Linked DNA regions of Homo sapiens. The protein of the gene in region 3 purifies or fractionates together with the protein of the main gene of each other region. This does not show direct contact. Each region holds a gene or a part of one and is shown on either strand. Other genes may lie near its edges.

What was found.
Region 1: the proteins of PPM1B (region 3) and FEZ2 purify together in Homo sapiens (affinity purification with mass spectrometry; 2 studies listed by BioGRID and IntAct, with this or other methods). This does not show direct contact.
Region 2: the proteins of PPM1B (region 3) and PAXX purify together in Homo sapiens (co-immunoprecipitation; 3 studies listed by BioGRID and IntAct, with this or other methods). This does not show direct contact.

Annotation. Positions count from the first base shown.
Region 1 is NC_000002.12:36,594,756-36,603,016, forward strand, and holds the start of FEZ2 (fasciculation and elongation protein zeta-2), read right to left. Parts: upstream 3,414-8,261; 5' UTR 3,388-3,413; coding exon 3,122-3,387; intron 1-3,121. UniProt on the Homo sapiens protein: Involved in axonal outgrowth and fasciculation.
Region 2 is NC_000009.12:136,987,702-136,994,889, reverse strand, and holds PAXX (protein PAXX), read right to left. Parts: upstream 2,469-7,188; 5' UTR 2,447-2,468; coding exon 2,328-2,446; intron 2,251-2,327; coding exon 2,190-2,250; exon of another isoform or gene 2,186-2,189; intron 1,966-2,185; coding exon 1,916-1,965; intron 1,838-1,915; coding exon 1,647-1,837; intron 1,548-1,646; coding exon 1,479-1,547; intron 1,311-1,478; coding exon 1,226-1,310; intron 1,125-1,225; coding exon 1,085-1,124; coding exon of another isoform or gene 1,024-1,084; 3' UTR 914-1,023; downstream 1-913. Other genes in the region: CLIC3 (chloride intracellular channel protein 3), read left to right, coding at 51-209. UniProt on the Homo sapiens protein: Non-essential DNA repair protein involved in DNA non-homologous end joining (NHEJ); participates in double-strand break (DSB) repair and V(D)J recombination.
Region 3 is NC_000002.12:44,199,631-44,207,560, reverse strand, and holds part of PPM1B (protein phosphatase 1B), read right to left. Parts: intron 6,376-7,930; 5' UTR 6,362-6,375; coding exon 5,516-6,361; intron 1-5,515.

The DNA.
Region 1 (8,261 bases), 7.6 Mb from region 3:
GAATTTGAGGAGTTTGCTTTGTCTGCTGATTTGCTCCTTCTTAAACAAGGCTATAAGAAAAAGGCAAATGGGATGGAATATTTCACTTAGAAGTGCCTGTCAGTGAGTTTGATCTTCCAAGAAAATGAAAGCCAACTAACAGTCTCCACCAAGGTCAAAACAATGGTAGTTGGAAGGACACAGAGGCAACTCTAGTGAAAGATTTCTAGAATTCTGCAGTCAAGACATATGAACTGCCTTCATCTTTATCACCAAGTATTACAACCAGTCGTAAACAACGGTCAGGACAGCTCTTTTGCAAGGAGGTCAAAGTCCTGCCAACATCGAATCCTGCAGAATACTCTTATAAGTAAAACCTCAGTACGTAAATACAATCCATATTTAACCAAAACAAAAGCTGAGGCTCAGAGAAGTTAAATGAAGTGCCAAGGGTCGGGGAGGGCTTTGGGGTGATTCAAGCACATTACATTTACGGTGTACTTTATTTCTATTATTACACTGTCATATATCATGAAATAATTTTACAACTCACCATAACGTAGAATCAATGGGAGCCCTGAGCTTGTTTTCCTGCAACTAGATGGTCCTATCTGGGGGAGAGGGGAAACAGTGACAGATCATCAAGCATTAGATTCTCATAAGGTGTCTGCAAACTAGAACCCTCACTTGTGCAGTTCACAATAGGGTTCACGCTCCTATGAGAATCTAATGCCGTGGCTGATCTGACAGGAGGTGGCTCAGGTGGTAATGCAAGCAATGGGGAGGAGCTGTAAATACAGATGAGGCTTTGCTCACTCACTCAGCCACTCACCTCCTGTAGTGTGGCCCAGTTCCAGTACCGGTCTGTGGACCAGGGGTTGGGGACCCCTTGACCTAAAGCACAGCAATATCTGAGTAAAACAATTATCAATTATATCTAGTGAAAAGGGAACTGGAACAGACTATCAAGCAATGATGAGTATGTTTTTGCAATATAAAAGGGACAATGCCAGTGATGACCAGCTCCCAACTCCCGGAAAAAAAGAGATTTCATATGCATTCCCAAGTCAAGAGACATGCATTACCACCAACATATCATCTACTAAATACCATTAACAAGAGCGACAAAATATTTTTAAGCAAAGGCTAAAATAACCTACTCTCCTGACGGTCTAAGTGAAACAAAAACTCTTAACGATCTACGTACAATCCTCTAATTGATTTAAGTCAGCTACTCTTGAAAAACCCAAATACATAATACATCTACACTAATTTTTAAATCCAGAATGTGTCCTGGGTTTAGTGATTCAGAGTATCTAAATCTACATATACATAAAATTATCTTCTCTTTGGGAACAGGCTTCCAAAAATGTCATCTTTTGCTACTGACGGCATGCATGTGTGTATAAAATCCAATTATAAGTGTTTCCCTTCTCTACACCTGGGCAGAACACTGTACTGAGGAACCAATAAAAGGAGATGGTCTCCAAACACAGGTGGGCCTGCACCACTGCTCAGCCATGTTTACAGGCCCCACTCCCAAGGCTGTCTTTACAAGCTTCCTACCTTATTCCTGATAAATCTGTTTGTTTCACAAAGGAAAGGAGACAATCAGGCTGGAAACTCCTTTCCGTGCCCGTGACTCCTGTCCTGTCTCTCAAAAATTCTTCCCTAACCTCTAAGAGTCTCTCCATCCCATCAATGCTCTGAAAATCCATTCCTTCCCATGTCCTCATTTTTGAGACAAAGTCTCGCTCTGACACCCAGGCTGGAGTGCAGTTGTGCGATGATGGCTCACTGCAACCTTCGCCTCCAGGACTCAAGCAATCCTGCCATCTCAGCCTCCGGGCAGCTGGGTCCGTGGGACCACGGGCATGCGCCACCGGACTTCACTAATTTTTTTTTAATTTTTTTGTAAAGACCAGATTTCACGATATTGCCCAGTCTGGTCTCGAACTGCTGGAAGCAAGCCATCCTCCCACCACAGCCTCTCAAAGTGCTGGGATCACAGGTGTGAGCCACCGCGCCCAATCTTATTCCACTCATTTTACCTTCAGCCTCTCCGGAGGCTCCTCTCCCCCTATATACACAACATGCTCAAGTCCCTTTACTCTCACCATTCCTATTTACCATCTTTTGGGGGTAAAACCATGGTACCTAATTACAACTCTTACTTAACCAAATTATAATTGCGGCTCAGGTGGTTTAAAAAGTGCCCTCAGGAACTCTGCGCCTCACCTCTCCCAGCTGTGATAAAACCCCGTGAACCTCCTATCATTGCTCTTAGGTGATTCTGTAATTATTAATATTACTTGTGTATGCCTTGGTCTCCCCACCAGACCATGCGATCGTTACCATCAGTAAGCAGGGCCCTTCGTTTTCGTCTCTGTGGCGGCTCGCACTCTACCAGGGCTCCCGGGTGGGTCCCACAGATTCCTGTGCCCTAAATGCTGCCTCGCACGTTGGTACTTATGCACAGGCAATATACTCCACCTAGAACGTTAGACTTTTTTCCACCTGCCAGGCACACTCCCACTCATCAGTCAGATCTCGTTTGCACATTTCTTTATAAAGTCGTTCCTTACTCTCCCCAAGACACACGCTTTTAAGTCTCTCACATTTGGTACATATAACCATTGCAGCGCTAATTACATCCATACATGTATTTGTTTACAAATCTATCTCCCATCCTACGTTGTGTCCTAAGTGGGAGGGACAGTGCCCAGTCGTTTTGGTGTTCCCTGTGCGAAGCAGCGCCTGGCACTCAGCAGGTGCTTAATAAATGCGACTTGAGTGAATGAATGGCGACACACGTGCCCCAGGAGGTGCCCCAGGAGGTGCCGTCTCTAACTATGGGCTCTGCATGGGCGATTCCCTTCTAATACAAACGAGGGTTTGGTTTGCAGGAAGGAGGGCGGGAGGTACCGAGGCGGAGGTTTTCAGGGCTCGTGGCGGCGGGGGGCAGGGGATTTAAATTGCTGGGCGAGCCGAGGCCGACGGCCGGAGGAAGGAGGCGAGAGGGCGGGGACTCCCGCGTCCGGGCGGAAGGAGGGCGCAGGGAGGAGCTGCGGCCGTAGGGCTGCCGGTCGGGCGAGGGGTAGGGGAGGCTCCCGCCCACTCCCGGCCGGGGCCCCGCACTCACTCGTCCCCCTGCAGGAGGCTGCGCTCCGTGATGGGCCGCACGGCCGTCCTCGGGGGCTCGGCGCCCGGATCCGAGGGGCGGAAGCACAGGCTCAGCTTCTCCTCCAAGCTGCAGGCCGGGGCCGGGAAACCGTCGGCGCCCCCACCCGCCTCGGCCCCCGCCTCCGCCCCAGGCTCGGGGCTCGCGTTACAGTTCTCCTGGTCCAGGAGGCTCCGGGCCGGCTCCTGGAACTCATAGAAATCCTGCCAGTCCCCGTCCGCCGCCATCGCCGCCCGGAGCAGTCGCGCGCCCCGCCCAGGCCGGCCCAGCCCGCCCAGCCCGGCCCCGCCCCGGCCCGAAGCCCCGCCCCCGCCCGCTACCGTGCTGACAGATCCCAGGCTGTCCCAACCCTGGGTCTCCGGTGGCCTGAGTCTTCCTGGAGTTGAACGCGGTGCTACTAGAAAGCCAAGACCTTAACTGCCTTGAGTCACTTCCTATATTCTCTATCATTTAGGAATAACTTCCCTGTTAGCTTCCCTTATTAGCAACTTGGCCTAAATGTGGCTAAAATAAAGGACTTCTTTAAACTTACGACCTAATATCAGATTACGCCCCGAAAGTCGTTTTCCCCAAGGTAACCTGCTCCTTTCCTAACTTGCCAACCAGAATAACAGCCAGAGTCAATGGGAAATGTTTAGGTGGTACCGAAGTTCATTCCTCAAATATTTTACCTCTCACGTGCAAAGCACTGGCTAGATCCTGCAGAACATACAAAGATAATTATGCCAGTTAACATTTGCAAAGCACTTAGAGCAATGCCTAATAGTAGATACCCTATGTGTATGTTATAACTAATACATGGGTGCCCCATACACAGGGCTTACAATGTCGGAGTGATAAGAGTAACAAGAAATTGTTTAGACCTCATAAAAACTAAGTGTGATTGGGCGGTTCAGTTTTGCAAGATGAAAAGAGTTATGGAGATGGATGGTGGTGATGGTTCCACGACAGTGTTAATGTGCTGAATGCCACTGATCTATACACTTACAGATGGTTAAGATAGTAATTTTATGTTTATTTTACTACAATACAAAAAAATTGGAGTAGGCCAGGCGAGGTGGCTCACATCTATAATCCCAGCACTTTGGCAGGCCCAGGTGGACGGATCGCTTGAGGTCAGGAGTTCAAGACCAACCTGGCCAACATGGTAAAACCCCGTCTCTACTAAAAATACAAAATCTAGCTGTCAGGCCTCTGAGCCCAAGCCAAGCCATCGCATCCCGTGACTTGCACATATACACCCAGATGGCCTGAAGTAACTGAAGATCCACAAAAGAAGTAAAAATAGCCTTAAGGATGACATTCCACCATTGTGATTTGTTCCTGCCCCACCCTAACTGATCAATGTACTTTGTAATCTCCCCCACCCTTAAGAAGTTTCTTTGTAATTCTCCCCACCCTTGAGAATGTACTTTGTGAGATCCACCCCTGCCCGCAAAACATTGCTCTTAACTTCACCGCCTGACCCAAAACCTGTAAGAACTAATGATAATCCATCTCCCTTCGCTGACTCTCTTTTCGGACTCAGCCCGCCTGCATCCAGGTGAAATAAACAGCCGTGTTGCTCACACAAAGCCTGTTTGGTGGTCTCTTCACACGGACGCACATGAAATTTGGTGCCGTGACTCGGATCGGGGGACCTCCCTTGGGAGATCAATCCCCCTGTCCTCCTGCTCTTTGCTCCATGAGAAAGATCCACCTACGACCTCAGGTCCTCAGACCGACCAGCCCAAAAAACATCTCACCAATTTCAAATCCAGTAAGCGGCCTCTTTTTACTGTCTTCTCCAGCTTCCCTCACTATCCCTCAACCTCTTTCTCCTTTCAATCTTGGCGCCGCACTTCAATCTCTCCCTTCTCTTAATTTCAGTTCCTTTCATTTTCTGGTAGAGACAAGGGAGACACGTTTTATCCGTGGACCCAAAACTCCGGCGCCGGTCACGGGCTGGGAAGGCAGCCTTCCCTTGGTGTTTAATCATTGCAGGGACGCCTCTGATTATTCACCCACGTTTCAAAGGTGTCAGACCACGCAGGGACGCCTGCCTTGGTCCTTCACCCTTAGCGGCAAGTCCCGCTTTTCTGAGGAAGGGGCGAGTACCCCAACCCCTTCTCTCCTTGTCTCTACCCCTTCTGTGATTTTTCTGGGGCAGGGGCAAGAACCCCTCAACCCCTTCTCCTTCACCCTTAGCGGCAAGTCCCGCTTTTCTAGGTGGCAAGAACCCCCAATCCCTTATTTCCACACCCCAATCTCTTATCTCTGTGCCCCAATCCCTTATTTCCGTGCCCCAACCCCCCTTCCCGCTTTTCTGGAGGGTAACAACCCCGAACCCCTTCCCTCCATGTCTCTACGCTCTCTTTTCTCTGGGTTTACCTCCTTCACTATGGGCAACCTTCCATCCTCCATTCCTCCTCCTTCTCGCTTAGCCTGTCCTCAAGAACTTAAAACCTCTTCAACTCACACCTGACCTAAAACCTAAATGCATTATTTTCTTCTGCAACACCACTTGGCCCCAATACAAACTTGACAATGGCTCTAAATGGCCAGAAAAGGGCACTTTCGATTTCTCCATCCTACAAGACCTAAATAATTTTTGTAGAAAAATGGGCAAATGGTCTGAGGTGCCTTACGTCCAGGCATTTTTCACACTTCACTCCCTCCCTAGCCTCTGTTCCCAATGCGATTCCTCCCAGATCCTCCTTTCCCTCCTGCCTATCCCCTCAGTCCCAACCCCAAGCGTCGCTGAGTTTTTCCAGTCTTCCTTTTCTACAGACCCATCTGACCTTTCCCCTCCTCCCCAGGCTGCTCGTCGCCAGGCCGAGCTAAGTCCCAATTCTTCCTCAGCCCCAACTCCTCCACCCTATAATCCTTCTATCACCTCCCCTCCTCACACCTGGTCTGGCTTACAGTTTAGTTCCGCGACTAGCTCTTCCCCACCTGCCCAGCAATTTACTCTTAAAAAGATGGCTAGAGCTAAAGGCATAGTCAAGGTTAATGCTCCTTTTTCTTTATCCCAAATCAGATAGCATTTAGGCTCTTTTTCATCAAATATAAAAATCCAGCCCAGTTCATGGCTCGTTTGGCAGCAACTCTGAGACGCTTTACAGCCCTAGACCCTAAAAGGTCAAAAGGCCGTCTTATTCTCAATATACATTTTATTACCCAATCTGCTCCCAACATTAAATAAAACTCCAAAAATTAGAATCTGGCACTCAAACCCCACAACAGGACTTAATTAACCTCACCTTCAAGGTGTACGATAATAGAATAAAGTTGCAATTCCTTGCCTCCACTGTGAGACAAACCCCAGCCACATCTCCAGCACACAAGAACTTCCAAACGCCCGAACCGCAGCGGCCAGGGGTTCCTCCAGAACCTCCTCCCCCAGGAGCTTACTACAAGTGCCAGAAATCTGGCCACCAGGCCAAGGAATGCCCACAGCCCAGGATTCCTCCTAAGCCGTGTCCCATCTGTGCGGGACCCCACTGAAAAATCGGACTGTTCAACTCACCTGGTAGCCACTTCCAGAGCCCCTGGAACTCTGGCCCAAGGCTCTCTGACTCCTTCCCAGATCTTCTCAGCTTAGCGGCTGAAGACTGACACTGCCCAATCGCCTCGGAAGCCCCCTAGACCATCACGGATGCCAAGCTTCGGGTAACTCTCACAGTGGAGGTTAAGTCCGTCCCTTCTTAATCAATACGGAGGCTACCTGCTCCACATTACCTTCTTTTCAAGGGCCTGTTTCCCTTGCTTCCATAACTGTTGTGGGTATTGACGGCCAGGCTTCTAAACCTCTTAAAACTCCCCAACTCTCGTGCCAACTTGGACAACACTCTTTTATGCACTCTTTGTTAGTTATCCCCACCTGCCCAGTTCCCTTATTAGGCCGAGATATTTTAACCAAATTATCTGCTTCCCTGACTATTCCTGGACTACAGCCACATCTCATTGCCGCCCTTCTCCCCAACCCAAAGCCTCCTTCGTGTCTTCCTCTCATATCCCCCCACCTTAACCCACAAGTATGGGACATCTCTACTCCTTCCCTGGCAACCGATCTCATGCCCATTACCATCCCATTAAAATCTAATCACCTTTACCCCACTCAACGCCAATATCCCATCCCACAGCATGCTTTAAAAGGATTAAAGCCTGTTACCACTCGCCTGCTACAGCATGGGCTTCTAAAACCTATAAACTCTCCTTACCATTCCCCCATTTTACCTCTCCTAAAACGAGACAAGGCTTACAGGTTAGTTCAGAATCTGCACCTTATCAACCAAATTGTTTTGCCTATCCACCCCGTGGTGCCAAACCCATATACTCTCCTATCCTCAATACCTCCCTCTACTACCCATTATTCTGTTCTGGATCTCAAACATGCTTTCTTTACTATTCCTTTGCACGCTTCATCCCAGCCTCTCTTTGCCTTCACTTAGACTGACCCTGACACCCATTAGGCTCAGCAAATTGACTGGGCTGTACTGCCGCAAGGCTTCACAGACAGCCCCCATTACTTCAGTCAAGCCCAAATTTCATCCTCATCTGTTACCTATCTCGGCATAATTCTCGTAAAAACACACGTGCTCTCCCTGCTGATCGTGTCCGATTAATCTCCCAAACCTCAATCCCTTACTAAAGAACAACTCCTTTCCTTCCTAGGCATGGTTAGTGCGGTCAGAATTCTTACACAAGAGCCAGGACCACACCGGGTAGCCTTTCTGTCCAAACAACTTGACCTTACTGTTTTAGCCTAGCCCTCATGTCTGCATGCAGTGGCTGCCGCTGCTTTAATACTGTTAGAGGCCCTAAAAATCACAAACTATGCTCAACTCATTCTCTACATTTCTCATAACTTCCAAAATCTATTTTCTTCTCACACCTGACGCATATACTTTCTGCTCCCCGGCTCCTTCAGCTGTACTCACTCTTTGTTAAGTCCCACAATTACCATTGTTCCTGGCCCGGACTTCAATCCGGCCTCCCACATTATTCCTGATACCACACCTGACCCCCATGACTGTATCTCTCTGATCCACCTGATATTCACCCCATTTCCCCGTATTTCCTTCTTTCCTGTTCCTCACCCCGATCACACTTGATTTAT
Region 2 (7,188 bases), on a different chromosome or scaffold from region 3:
GCGCCTGGGGGACGGCAGGTCCTGACCGCGCCCCGCGATCCTGCCCGCAGACGGTGTGCGCGCACTTCCGCCAGGCGCCCATCCCCGCGGAGCTGCGCGGCGTACGCCGCTACCTGGACAGCGCGATGCAGGAGAAAGAGTTCAAATACACGTGTCCGCACAGCGCCGAGATCCTGGCGGCCTACCGGCCCGCCGTGCACCCCCGCTAGCGCCCCACCCCGCGTCTGTCGCCCAATAAAGGCATCTTTGTCGGGAGTGAGGGTGTCCTGACATCTGAAGGGCCAGAGGTCTCGGGATCACTTCCCATCCCCAAACCCCAGGGTGGGACGCTCAGCCCGATAGCCCAGAACCACAGGGGCAGGAGCGCCGGGGGTCGGGCCGGTCCCATCCTCCACGCTAAGAAGGCGCAGACTCCAGGCCTCCTGCAACCGGTGGCCTCAGGGATCTCCAGGACCGGACTGGGCTCCCAAACCAGTCAGGCCGGGGTGGGGCGGGGTGCCCCAGGTGGATGGGGGCTGGCACATTCCTCAATCCTGTCCCGGGGCAGGCGCTCCCCTCCCCGCAGGGCACTTCCAGTGTCTCAGGGTCTACACGGGACTTCTGTCTGCATCCTCCCACGGGGCTCCGTGCCCTACCTGGGTGCGGCCTGGGAGGGTGGGAACAAAGTTCTAAGCCTTGGGGAGCCCTGGCCCTGCCTGGCTGGGCCCCTCTCAGCTCCTGGGCTGGCAGGGCTGGAATAGCTGGACGGTCTGAGAGTGCTCACCTCCCTCCGGCCCAGCAAGGAAGTCTCCAGGGAGCTGAGAGGCTGCAGCATCTGTTCACATCCTGTGGCCCTACACCCAGAACACAGGCCCAGGGGTGTTCCCTGATCCCTTCCCAGGCCAGTGCCAGGAGTCAGAGCCCCACCAGAGCCTCCAACCAAGGGAGCTGTTTATTTGACAGGGAAGGAATTTGAGGAGCCGTGTTAGTCCTGGCCCAGGACAGGCAGGTGGAGGTGGTGGCGGGGGGTCTCTGATGGGGGCCTCAAAGACTGCCTCTCCCCTCATAGGCGGACTCCCCGCGGGGCCACGCTTGTGCTGCACCTTCAGGTCTCATCGAAGTCCACGCCACCAGCTGGTTTCTTACTGGGAGGGAAGAGGGGTGTCACTATGGCACTATGGTGTGGAGAAAGGGGTGGGGTCCAGGATTGGACCCTGGGCGCAGGAAGGGGGCTGTGGGAGGGTACCTCTTGAACCCGGGGTTGATGAGCGACTCTCCTGGACACCGCCTCCTGACTCCAGGTCCAGGGCCACCTCTCTGGGGATCTGGGTCTGGGGGAAAACAGGACAGGGGCAGCTCCTGAACCTGGCAGCATCCCAACCACAACCTTCTCCGAATAGATAGGCATTCTCTCTGGAGCGTGAGTCTTGTTTGGGGGGAAACTGAGTTCCAGGTTAAAGAGCACAGCCCTACTTGAGTCACAGGCGGACATGCCTTACCTGGTAAGAAGAGCTGAGGCCCTGCAGGCCGGGGGCTCTTCCTCGGGCTGACAGCTGTCTCTTCTGCAGCTGGGGAGGAAAGCCCATGGGAACCCCACTCAGTGCCAGGAGTGGGGGCAAGAGCAGGGGACCCCAGTGAAGGTATGAGGTGCCCACCCCCAATCCTACCTGCCAGTCGCCGCTCCAGGCTCCACACGCGTTTTGCCAGGCCCAGTGTCAGCGCCCGCAGCCTGGGGGCTGCCTCTGGGCCTGGTACCTTGGAGAGGTCAAAGGCCAGTGCCGAGGGCCCCCCTGAAAGCGTCAGGGATGCTCTGTCCTCCTGCAGAGTCAGAGCCACAGCTTGCTGCTCACAGGCTGCCCTGGGAGAGGAGAGGTGCGGAGAGCTGTGGCAGACCCTCCTCCTCCCCACCCGTCCTTCCTCCCTGCTTGGGTCTCACCTGAACCGGGGGGTGATGTCCTCAGCCGCACTCAGGCCAAAACGGGCTTTCTAGAGAGCACAGGGGCTTGTCACGAGCTGCCTGGAACCCGAGGCCCACTGGGGGCACCCGAAACCTGCCCGACCCCAGAGCCCTAGCCAATGGGAGGACTACAGCTACAGGGCGGGCAGAGGGTGTCAGAGCCTTCTGGGGAATCCCAGATGTCTGTCGCCCCATAGACGATCTGCACTGCAAGGAGGGGTGTGGCGGCTCCCAGACCCGCCCAGTTACCCACGAGGGCCGCCAGGCTGTCCGGCGTGAAGCAGGTGCTCCAAAGCTCCGCGGCGTCGGTCACGCTGGGGGAGAAGGCCTGTCAGGCGGGGCCGCCCGCGGAGCTCCCTGCACCCCTACCTCCCCGCGGACCCCCACTCACTAGAGGTTGAAGCCGCCGCGGTCCCCCTCCCCGCTTTCCTCCCCTTCGCAGTAGCACACGAAGCGGGGCGGCTCGGGGCCCGGCGGCAGCGTGCAGAGCGGCGGCGACAGCGGATCCATGGCGCCGGGCGAGCGGGAACCCGGCGGGGCGGGGCTTGGGCGCCGGGAGGGGCGGGGCTGTGCGGGCTCAGGGCTCCTGCGCGGAAGAACGACTTCCGGAGCCGGGTGCAGGCCAGTCGCGGGCTTAGGGAGCTTGCGCGGGGCGGAGTCTGGTTGGGGGCGGGGTCTGTGTGTGGAGGCGGGGTTAGGGGCGGGGTTATGAGGGTGGGGGGATTCGGGGCGGGGCTAAAGGCACAGGCCGGGCCGCGCGGACCCGGTACCCGCGCGGGCTTCAGGCGACTAGAGGCCGAGTTTAGTGCGCGGGGCGGGCCGGAGCAGGGCGTCCTGGGTCAGGGATCCAGAGGCCCTGCCCCCAGCGCTGGCCTCGCCGGTCGTGGGCTCCACGGCGCGATCCCGGGCTCTGGCCCTCGCGCCCGCGAGCAGCCCCACTCGAACCTCGCCCCCTCCCGCCCCCGCCCCGGCTCCAAGTCCAGCCGAGTCCAGGTTCCCTCCGTGGCTCTGCGGATACATCCTGGAGCCCCGCCCTTCCATCGTCTTCACACACAAACCGGAAGCTTCCTAACTCTAATCGTAAGAAGTTACGGTTGGTCCGGCAAGGTGACTCACGCCTGTAATCCCAGCACTTTGGGAGGCCGAGGCGGGCAGATTGCCTGAGGTCAGGAGTTCGAGACCAGTCTGGCCAACATGGTGAAACCCCGTCTCTACTAAAAATACAAAAAAATTAGCCAGGTGTGGTGGCGCACGCCTGTGAGGCAGGGGAATTGCTTGAACCAGGGAGGTGGAGGTTGCAGTGAGCCGAGATCGCGCCACTGCATTCCAGCCTGGGCAACAGAGCGAGACTCTGTCTCAAACAAACAAAAAAAGAAGTCACAGTACAGAGCGATCTCCAGGGAAGAAGGCTTCTGCGCTCTCTGTCCCGCGCATGGTATTCCTCCAGCTCCTCCTACGTGCCTGTTGTCCTAGGCCTGGATATCGATCAACAGACAAGGTCTCTGACTCCCTGGAGCTTCTAGGATCCAATAGGAGAGACACCACACTCTCAGGCAGGGCCAAGCGCCAGGAGAAACTGCAGCGGGTGCTATGAGGGCAGGAGGAAGAGGATGGCTCCCACCAGGGACAGGGAGATCCCAGGCGGAGGCCTGGCCACATAAATAATGGTTCTGTTCAAGGCTCGGCAAGAAGGCCAGGTTGGCAGCATGGTGCTGTGGGGAGGGCCAGTGGGTCTGTAAGCTACGCTTCCATATCGGAGTGCTCCCACAGCAAGCCTGCCTCACCTCCTCCTGCTTCCCAGTTCACTCCCAGTCCTGGCTCCTGCCCCCTGGGCCTCTGCACATGCTGCTGTTTCTGCCTGGCACATCCTTTCCCCAGACTCACATGCTTCCTTCAGGTCTTTACTCAAAAGTCACTTTAGTGAGACCTTCCCTGGTGTTGTTCTGACATTGCAGCATGCTGCCCAGCTCTCACATCCCTCTCTCCTGTCATTTCCCTATTTTTCACACTTCTCACTGTAGAAAGTACACTTTGGCTTGCTTTATTCTGGCAGCTAGCTCCCTGTTATACCCTCCTGGGTTTAGACTTTTCTGCACTCCCCTCCCCTTGGGCTGGACTTTATTAATGACTTGCTTCTGGCAACTAGAATAGGACAAAATTGCTCTTGAATTGCTGGGTGTGACATGAGGCAGCCCTAAGGGGATGACCATGGCCAGCAAGGGAACCGGGAAGCTGACGCCCCAGCTGAGCCTTCCCATGAGACCACATCATCGGCCGGCAGCTTGACCACAGCCTCCTGAAACTTTGTGTCAAAGGCCCAGAGTCCTGCCTGGCTGACACTGGGAGATAATGCATGCCTGCTGGTTAAGCAGCTGCATTTGGGGTAACCTGTCACTCTGCAGTAAGTGACCACCAATACACTTATTTACCCTGCTTATTGTCCATCACCCCAGGAGGTCCATGAGGGCAGGGATTTCTGTCTGTTTTACCTGCCAGTGTATCCGTCTCTTCAGCGCTTACACAATGGCTGGCACATACAGACACTGAATAAACATTGTGAATGAATGAATGGGGGGTGGTGGCTGTTGGAGGTTTAAGCAGGGGTGGATGGGAAGTGGCACGTCTGACTTATGTGTGTGAAGTCCGTATTCTGTGCTGTGAGGAGAGAGGACGGGGGCTGCAGAGGAGAGGGGTGGACCATGGGCTCGGACTGGAGGTGGAGGGAGGAGGAGACAAAGAACAATCAAGGATGGCCCTGGCATTTGGGAAGAGTGGAAAGGGGAGATTCATCCCCAAGATGACTGGGGTGGGGCAGATTTGGAGAGGACTGGGGGGCCTCTTCTTTGTCATGTGAACTCTGAGATGCTGGCTGTAGCAGGCCCCAGATATCAGGCCCTAATCCCTGGGACCTGTGAATGCTATTGTCTATGGAAGATGCTGGGCACTGCATTCCAGCCTGGGCAACAGAGTGAGATCCTGTCTCCCCTTCCCCCCAAAAAAAGGAAAGAAAAGAAAGGAGTGTTTGCAGATATTCCCTTGAGATGGGGTGATTATCCTGGATTGCCCAGGGAGGCCCTCAGTGCCATCTCAAGGGCCTTTTAAAAGTGAGGCAGAGGAAGCTTTGAGACAGAAAAGAAGGCAGCATGGCATGGAGGGAGGAACTGGAGCGATGCAGCCCACAAGCCAAGGATTACAGGCTGCTATCAGAAGCCAGTGTTGTGACCAAGCGAGTTATACAGAAACGCCACACTTTGAGACAAATTAAAGAGTCCGTTATTAGCCGCGACTGAGAGGCAGCTAACGCTCAAAATTCTCTCGGCCCCGAGGAAGGGGCTAGTTTTGTTTTTATACCGTGGTCTAAATAGGGGAGGGGGGATTTTAGCTGAAGCAATTTTTACGGAAGCAGAACTGGCAAAAAGTTAAAAAAATTAATTGGTTACAAATGCAGTTACAAAAAATAAACAGTTCCAGGTGCAGAGGCTTAAACTATCACAAAGAGATAAATGCAGGGGTTTTGGGTGCCATCCACCACGCGTGTCCCCAGGAGCTGCTGGTGCAGCTTGCCTCAATGTCTTATCAGTAGGTGCATTCCTGGACGTGCTTTGAGTCAGTTTACACTAGCTATGCCTTCAGGGAGGAAGGTGAAAGGGGGCCGCAGGTGAAGAAACTAAAATGGAGTGTGTCCGGCTCTCTCTCTGCCAGGAGAGGGTCACTCAGGTGGAAACAAGGTAGGGTATCCCACCAGAAGAGGCCAGGCCCAGTGGCTCATGCCTGCAATCCCAGTGCTTTGGGAGTTCAGAGTGGGAGGACTGCTTGAGGCCAGGAGTTCAAGGCCAGCCTGAGCAAGACAGCAAGACCCATCTCTAAAAAGAAAACATTAGCCAGGCATAGCGATGCATGCCTGTAGTCCCAGCTACTTAGGAGGCTGAGGCAGGAGGACTGCTTGAGCCCAGGAGTTCAAGGCTTCAGTGATCTGATCGCGCCATAGTACTCTGGCCTGGACATCAGAGCAAGACTCTGTCTCAACAACAACAAAAAAAGAAGACAAAGAAGCTAGAAGAGGCAAGGAAGGTTTCTCCCCTAGAGCCCTCGGAGGGAGCACAGCCCGGCTGATACCTCGACCCTATTAAACTGATTTTGAACTCTGGCTTCAAGCTACAAGTTTGTGATAATTTGTGGCAGCTGTAGGAACTGACACAAGACCAGAAACAAAGATTAGTTCCAAAACATGACGAGAAAACTGCAAAACCTTCATTTAACTAGCCTCAGGCTGGGTCCGTGTGGACCTCAGGTGTTTATTTTACACTTTGGCTCACACCCTGGTGTCATGTTCTGTTTCGTGGCTCACATCGGGCCAGCTTCATCTACTGGCAGCAGCTTTTCCACTGGCTTCCACCACGTCCTTCTCTGAGATACTTTTTTATACTTTTTTTTTTTTTTTTTTTTTGAGACGGAGTTTCGCTCTGTCGCCCAGGCTGGAGTGCAGTGGTGCGATCTCGGCTCACCGCAACCTCTGCCTTCCAGGTTCAAGCGATTCTCCTGCCTCAGCCTCCCGAGTAGCTGGGACTACAGATGCCCACCACCACACCTGGCTAATTTTTGTATTTTTTAGTAGAGACAGGGTTTCTCCATGTTGGTCAGGCTGGTCTCGAACTCCCGACCTCCTACCTCAGGTGATCCGCCTGCCTCGGCCTCTCAAAGCTCTGAGATTACAGGCATGAGCCACTGCACCCAGCCATGGGAGCAATTTTCTTTAATGTAGGATACATTAATACAGTGTATGAGATATAAGGTTAGTGGAGCTTTGCAAGCAGAAGGAGAGGGATTACAAAGTCCCCACGCACACACTTGAAGTCGGTGATGGAGGCAGAACAGGGGAGGGAAAGGGCTGACCTTTCCCAAGGCATAGAGCACCTGGAAGCTGGGCCAAAAAGAGGAGCAAAAGGTCCGGAGAACGAGCTCTAGGGGAGTGGGGGCCAGTCAAGTTTTGGGGTAGCAGAGGTCAACAACCAAGGGAGGTATTTGAGCAAGACTTCAGAGACGGGAGTGAGTGCACTGAGTGGCACTGGGAGAAGGGCAGTCCAGGCAGGGGTGACCTGGGCAAAGGCCCTGAGACACGTGAGGGGCTGGCAGCAGGACGGAGGGAGGGGAGTGGATGGTGGGTCAAAGGAAAGCCTAAAAGAGAAGACCTTGTTGGCCACCATCAAGACTTAGGCCTGAGGCCGGGCATGGCGGTTCACGGCTGTAATCCC
Region 3 (7,930 bases):
TAGTACCATGAGATTATGTGCAATCAATTAAAAATACGTTCTCATTACTTTTTCTAAAGGTATATTACTTTAACTGAGTTTCTAAGAGCAGGAGCAGATGAAACTGTTCTTGGAATAACGATTTTTTTCAAACTTTCTTTTTCTGTTCACTCTAAAAAACAAAGTCAGTGGAGGTGGTAGGCTATTTTGTCTGATAGTGTTTGCCAAATTTGCCAACTCAAGTGAAAGAAACCAAGACCACACCCTTTCTAGTCTTTTCAGTTATTATGACTAGAATCTAGGCAGGCATGGCTCGGTTCAGACTTATGCCTTTCAGAACCTACATGACACAGCCCAAAAGACAGGTGGCCTTGAATAACTTCTGCCTTCACCTCCTAATTCAATGGGAGTAAAGTTTGAAGGCAGTGAAGGTTGGGTCTTCAGAAGACTTCAAAATAAATTAACTTGTCACAGATTGTTGTGCTTTGGAACAAGGAACCAACTTGAGTATTTCATTAGATTCCCGGTTATCTGGAAAAACCATTTCCAAATTGGCCAAATTAATTCATTCCTTAATGAAACCCACCAAAACTTTTATATTAGAAATACTGTATGTGTTTGGTTATATGAATATACTTGTATAAATGTCATAAGGGCAGTTCAAGCAAAAATTTTTAATTAAAAATAATTTTAAAGTACACCATGGATATTCAAGAATCAAACAGCTGGGCATGGTGGCTGCCTGTAATCCCCGCAGTTTGGGAGGCTGAGGCAGGAGGATCATTTAAGGCCAGGAGTTTGAGACTAGCCCGGGCAACACAGTGAGACACCCTTTCTAAAACACAACAACAAAAAAAGAATCAAGCATAATTACACTTTATAAAGCAATTTTATGCATAAACGGAATTAACACCTTACACTTTTAGAAATCTAATTTCTTTTAACCCTTTTGAGTTTTTGGTAACAACAACATGAGCATTGTGGAACATTTCCTTATCTAATTTCCATTCGATTTTTGTAAGTTATAAAATATAAATACTTTTGGAAAATTAATTGAAAGAGAGTTCCAATAAATTTATGGTTCTCCAAAGACATTTAAGGGAAATAATTTATATTTACATCTCAGGCATGTGTGATTTCAGTGATGTTGCTTCTTAGCCACCTTGCCTGGCTTGCTTCTATTTCTATGTAAAGATGGCTTTCCCCTAAACACCAAGTATGAATATGTTTCAGTAGCTGTTATACAGCAACAGAAAAGGTCCTTTCCTTTGTGCCATTGTTTTTTAGAGACAAAACATCCTTGTATAATCAGTATAAAGTTTTCACTAAGTCCATAAATAAAACATTTTTTTTTCTAAATCCAGTTTGGATAACTAAAGAAATTAGCTCTGCATATAAAAATTGATTATTACATGTTCTTTTTACTTTTTACAACAGCACAGCAGTTAACACTCTTAATAATCATAGTACCAGATCAAAGACGCCAGTGCCCCTGCCATAAATAAGGGCATCTAAACTTAAACAGAAAACAATCTGATACAGTTTTTTGTTTGTTTTTGTTTTTTTGACACGGAGTCTCACTCTGTCGCCCAGGCTGGAGTGCAATGGCGCGATCTCAGCTCACTGCAACCTCTGCATCCCAGGTTCAAGCAATTCTCCTGAGTTTAGAACTAAACAATTATTGAGGGGGTTACATTTTCTATGTTATATAAATTAATATAGAATGATGTTGCCTTTGGAAAATGATAATTTCCCTCAATTTTATCCAACTATGAGGTACTATCTCATGTTTTAAAATAAATAGGCTTCTGGTAGATGGTATATAAATGAAATTTTGGAAAATCAAATAATGTTTTAAAAGAACAATTTAAAAGAATACCGACTTTTATAATTTAAGAAAAACAAAACAGGTGACAAAGTAACAAACATAGCATGATCTTTTTCTATAAAATACAAAAAAAGAAAAAATCCTATTTTACGTTTATACATTTCTATCAATAATCACAGAGAACCATTTGGAAAGATATACAGCAAACCATGAGCAGTGGTTCCCTAAGTGAGATGAGACTGGAAAGCAGAAACATCAAGGGGAATCACTTTACTTCAAACATCTCTGTATTTGTTACAAAAAAAATTTAGTCTTAATGTTTCCCTTGGGGAAAAATTTCTCAGACCATGAAAACCGAAACAGACAGACACTTACACACACACACACACACACACACACCCACACCCACACCCACACCCACTCTTCTTTATTTTATCAGGCCCTTCTGGGAAATATTGTTAACAAAAATACTAAACTTGAGTCAGAAAACTAGTCTCAGCCTCAATACTCACCAAGTATATGACTTATGGATATCTTTTAATATCAAACAACCTCCATTTCCTTACTTGCAAATTAAAAAAACTTTTTATTTTGTTCACCTCAGAAAGTTACTATGAGGATTAATAAGTATGTATCATTTACAAGTTATGAAAAGCTATGCACGTGGCAGTTACATATTTTAAGCAACCCGAAATTAGTTGGCAGTAAACACCATAAATGCCAGCATTGCAAATAAAATGGGAGGGTTGCTTTCTTAGCTCCCATTCTCCCCTCGAGTTAAATACCTAATTTAAATAGGATAATACCTGACCACAGTCATACAACACTTACAGATTAATATTAACTGGCAACCCTGAAAAATGCTTATCTTTTTTTTTTTTTTTTTTTTTTTTTTGAGACGGAGTCTCGCTCTGTCACCCAGACTGGAGTGCAGTGGCGTGATCTCGGCTCACTGCAAGCTCTGCCTCCCGGGTTCAAGTCATTCTCCTGCCTCAGCCTCCTGAGTAGCTGGGACTACAAGCGCCCACCACAACGCCCGGCCGATTTTTTCTATTTTTTAATAGAGACGGGGTTTCACTGCGTTAGCCAGGATGGTCTCGATCTCCTGACCTCGTCATCTTAACTACCTCATATGGTTGTGAAAATTACATGAGTTAAAATATGTAAAGTATTTAGAATAGTGTTTGGCTTACAGAAAGCAATAATTTACTAATACTACCACGATTATGATTATGATAACCTCCCAAGATTTAATGAGTTAAGATAAAAGTGCTTATAAATTATGAAAGTATGACAAGTGATGGAGGTGTTAGAAAAAACTAGGACTTCATTTAAATCTCTTATCAGGGAAACATCTACTTATTAATGTTTCCTCTCCTCTTACAGCAGGTAACTACTGTGCAATCGCTAAGTGCTTTCCATGAATTTTTAACTTACAATTTTTCTGAGTAAATTCAAAGTAATTATATTTGATCTTATTGCTAACCCTTGCTTTTACAATACAAATAAATGGAAAGACAAAATTACGAAGTTAAACAGAAATGAAGGTTTCCATAAGTAACTTTCAAAGGTTCAAAAATAATTTTAAGTCTGTTTTGTTTCAATTCAAACCTCCAAACTGATTTCAATTTGAATGCAGCTCCATTAGAAGGAACTATGATGGTCAGCTTCCATTAACATTGAATGAATCATGGGCCCCAACTTCTTGTCTGTTATTATCATTCCTCATTTCTGAGATTCTAGGATGCCATCTAGAATCTTTTAACACCATCAACATGAACATTTAATCACTCTAAATTGATAAAAGCTAGCAAGTGAAGATATACCACCAGAAATATTTAAACCTCATTCAGAAGGGTCGAGTCAAAATTCTCAAAAACTAGCATCCTTTCAATGGATAAGTGAGTTAATCTACTAACACAAACTTCTTTCCTTAGTCCAAATTACAGACCTAATAGATTTTTTGGCTATTCCCTCACAACCTCATTCTTTCAATAAAATACTACGCAGCCAAGAAAAATGATACAGATCAATACTTATAGGCATGGAGATCTCTCTACAATATATTGTTGGAAAAGGCAGGCTGTAGAATAACAAGTATAATCATCTCGGTTTTATAAAAATACACACACTCACAGGCAGGCAGAAAAGACTGGAACAATATACACCACAACAATGAAAGTAGCTGACTTAGGGTGGATGGCAAAATTTTGGGTGTTTCTCTATATTTTCTTCATCATCTGGATTTTTTTTCCAATAGTAAGTATATACCTTTTTTTTATAATTGGGGAAAATGCTGTTTTCATTAGCTAGTCAGGCAACAAACATATGCCTATGCTTGTCTCAAAAATCTACAGGTCAGAATTGCTTCATTTAGAGTTCAAAGACAAATACATAATTTTAGACCCACTTACTATTTGATCACTGACAACCATCAATACTTCTTTACTTAACTCATCCAGAAGTAAAAAGATACAGTGTGTTAAAAATAAAAATCAGAGGAGCTAGAGGTACCATCATTAAAATCCTTTCAGAAAAAGGCTGTCCACTGACAAGAACGGCCTTTAAATCTTCTGTTTTTAAAACTGCCTCTTTCCATTCTATTAAAAAGAAATCGGTATTTAACCAAAATCTGGGCATTTCCAGAGACCCAGAGATCCTTTCTGAAAAACTTTCTGGTTATGCCCATACCTTCCACAGTACATTTTGGAGTAGGGAGATACAGTGGTTCTAATCTAGACAGAATAAATAAGTCAAACCCTTTATTTATTTCATGTAACTAAAGGTCAGTTTTACCTTGGTATCTTTTCAGTCAAATACTTACACACTCCAGACACTGGCCAGATAACTCAAATTTTAATTGAATTATATATAGATGCTGTCAAAAACCCACTTGAAACAACTGAGTATTTTAAAGATATTCAAAGGATTGCCAATTATCTATTACTCTGGACTTTTTTTCTATTACTGTATCAAGCAATGATTCATACAAAATTACAAATCTAAATAAACTTTAGTGTTCCACAGGAATTTTTCACAAGATTATGTTTTATAGAAGCCTTTGGTTTTTAATCAGAAATAATAAAAACATCTATATGAAAAGAATTTTATCTTCTACAAAAGATACTATCCAAGTCATGTATTACTTAGAGAGCCACATGTAAATCCTTTTTAGATTGTATTGCCAGATAAGAGCTGCTTTTAGAAGACAATGAGAAATATACAACCCATATTTTTATTTCAGTTTTTGTCTTCACTGCTAGGAGGCTCAGGACTAAATTTTATACAGGCTAGGCATCTAGTACATCTTCCAATATTTCACATGGCTCTTGATCTTTTAGTAATATCTAGTACAGAATTCTACTATATACATATTTTATCAAGCTGCTTCATAATCAGGCATAAGATGGTTACTGCCAATGTCAAGAAAAAGTCACTCTGTGTAAATGCTTTTGCTACAGCAACAAGCTATGAAGTACTTAAATGACAACAAATGCCTCAAATTTATCAAGCTTAATTTTCAAATTAGAAGGCTGGGACAAACAAGGATGGCAAAGAAAACAATGGTTTCATTTCTGGTAAAGTACTTCAAAATATACAGCTTCTGTGAAAATATTAAAAGTTTTAAAATTTTAAGTTAGCTTAACTTTACCTACCGTAACTTTTCAAAATTAACATGTTATTTTAATGACAAAAAAGTTTACATACCTTGTGTAAACAAGTGTCCACTACCCAATTGCACACATTTTCCAGGTCATCAGATACCTCAAGCCTAGATTTAACATATTCACAGAGCTCCTCATTACTCATAACATCCCAGATCCCATCACAAGCCAAGATGATAAATTCATCCTCTTCTGCTCTTAAAATTTCATAAACCTCAGGCTCTGGAGAAACAAGTTGTTCTGTTGGGCCCTTGCCATCAACACACTTGTAATCATAGTCCCCCAGAGCACGAGATACTGCTAATGAACCATTAACACGTTGTATCATCACGCTGCCTCCTGCATTTTGGATTCGCTCCTTTTCCCTTGGATTGCAAGGTTTGTGATCCTGGGTAGAAAAGCAGACTTGTCCATTCCTATACAGAACAGCACGTGAATCACCACAGTTGATAAAGTAGATATGCTTAGGTGAAATCATAACTCCCACTGCAGTTGAACCACTCCTGTCCATCCCGTTTCTGAGGTCTGAAAAGTTACGCATGTATTCATCAATTTTCAAAAATCCAGTTCTGATACCATTCTTAACATTTTCCACTGAAAGCTCAAGAGCAGATCCTGATTTTCCAGCTGCCCTAAAGTCTTCGTTAGTAGTGATGTGTTCTAATAAATGTGTTGAGCAGTAATTTGCCACTCGGGATCCAGCATGACCATCATAAACTGCAAAAAATGACCAGTCTTCCAAGCCGTGAGGAATACCTACAACAGCTGTGTGTGCATCTTCCATTTCCACTCTCCATCCTTGCATGCTGCTCAGGCCATAACGTAAACCATTCCCAGCACCATGAGCATTATGTTTTTCAGTTTTGGGTTTATCCAAAAATGCACCCATGTTTAGCAATAAATCTGAAATAAAAAATGCAGGTGTTAAATGTTTAAATTTGACAGAAAATGTATGTACAATATTCCCTCTATAGTCTAGTAACTCCTACCTCAAGTATTTTTTTTAGTATTATCCTAATTTACGGGAGCAACAACAAAAGCCCAAGAAATTTCCTCCCCTACATCCTACAGAACAGTGGTTTCTCAGCCCTAGCGCGTAAGAATAATCAGACCAATTAAATCAGAATCCCTAGGGATGGGACACAGATATCATCTTTTAAAAGCCTCTCTGGTGACTTGTATGTGCAGCCACGTTGAGACCACTGTTCTAGGAGAAAGGAAAAAACAAGAAATAAAACTTCATTAATAATTTCATTCTGATTTAATTTACAAGGTGAGTCTAGGGTTCGACATGTAAGTTTACAGAAGACTGGACAATGAGAATATTCAAAACAGTGAGTCATCTTGTTCAATAAATCAAGGTAGGAAGGTATACTAATATACTTTAGAAGACTTTCAAAAGCAAGTATTGAAATCAAGATTTCTCCTCCCAGTGAACCTAAAGACAACCCCAAAATTCAATTAAAACATAAAAATCTCCATTCTACACACATTTGGTTTTATCACTTTTACTATATATCTATAAAACTGAAAACCTTATCATTACTTTGATTCTGTTAAAAACATACCTTTAACATGGTGCTAAAAAATGGACTTCACTTTGCTGAACTTAAAATCCATGAAGTAGCTACCCAGTGTTGACTGACAAAGACTTAAAATCCTTAGAATTGGAAAGTACTACTATGCATCACCCTCTCCCCGCCTACCCAACTTTACTATTTTATAGAATAAAGCTTTCCCAATTTCAAATGACTTAGATTAGACTTAGAGTAATGGTTCCCAAAAGTATGCAAAAGAATTCTCTGGTATGTTTTCTACATACAATGCTAACCCTACACTCTAACTAGGTGACCTTGGGCAAATTTCTTAGTCACCTGTACCTATACCTCATAGGGCTGCTGTGAAGAATGAGTCAATGTAAAGTGCTTAAAACAGCACTTAAAACACAATAAACACCATAAAATGTTTGCTGTTATATCTGCTCAAAATGCAGACTCCATAGCCCTATTCCCACACCTAAGGATTTTTTTCAATAGATCTTAGATGGAATCATCAAAAAAGCATGCTGGTGATTTAAAGTTTTGAGAGACACTGGTCTAGATCAATTTACCTCCATTTGGGTCTACGTATCTTTGTGAGATTTTTTCCAGGTATGATCATTATTGAACTTTACAATAAAATTACATATCGCCATTTAAAAAAATCTGATGAACCACTCGATATATATATGTAAATATTTATAAGTTACATACCAGTTTTATAATTTTCCTGGGTTATATGTGATACTGTATTAATAAATTACAAATGTATTTATAGAAAAAGAGTCCTGAAAGGATAAGATTAAAATCATGTAAAAATTATTTTTCATTCTATCAGTAGAATGTCATATTTTGTACTGAGAGCAATGTAACAGAATATGCTTGATTACTTTTGAACATGCTGGTTTAATTCTCTGTGA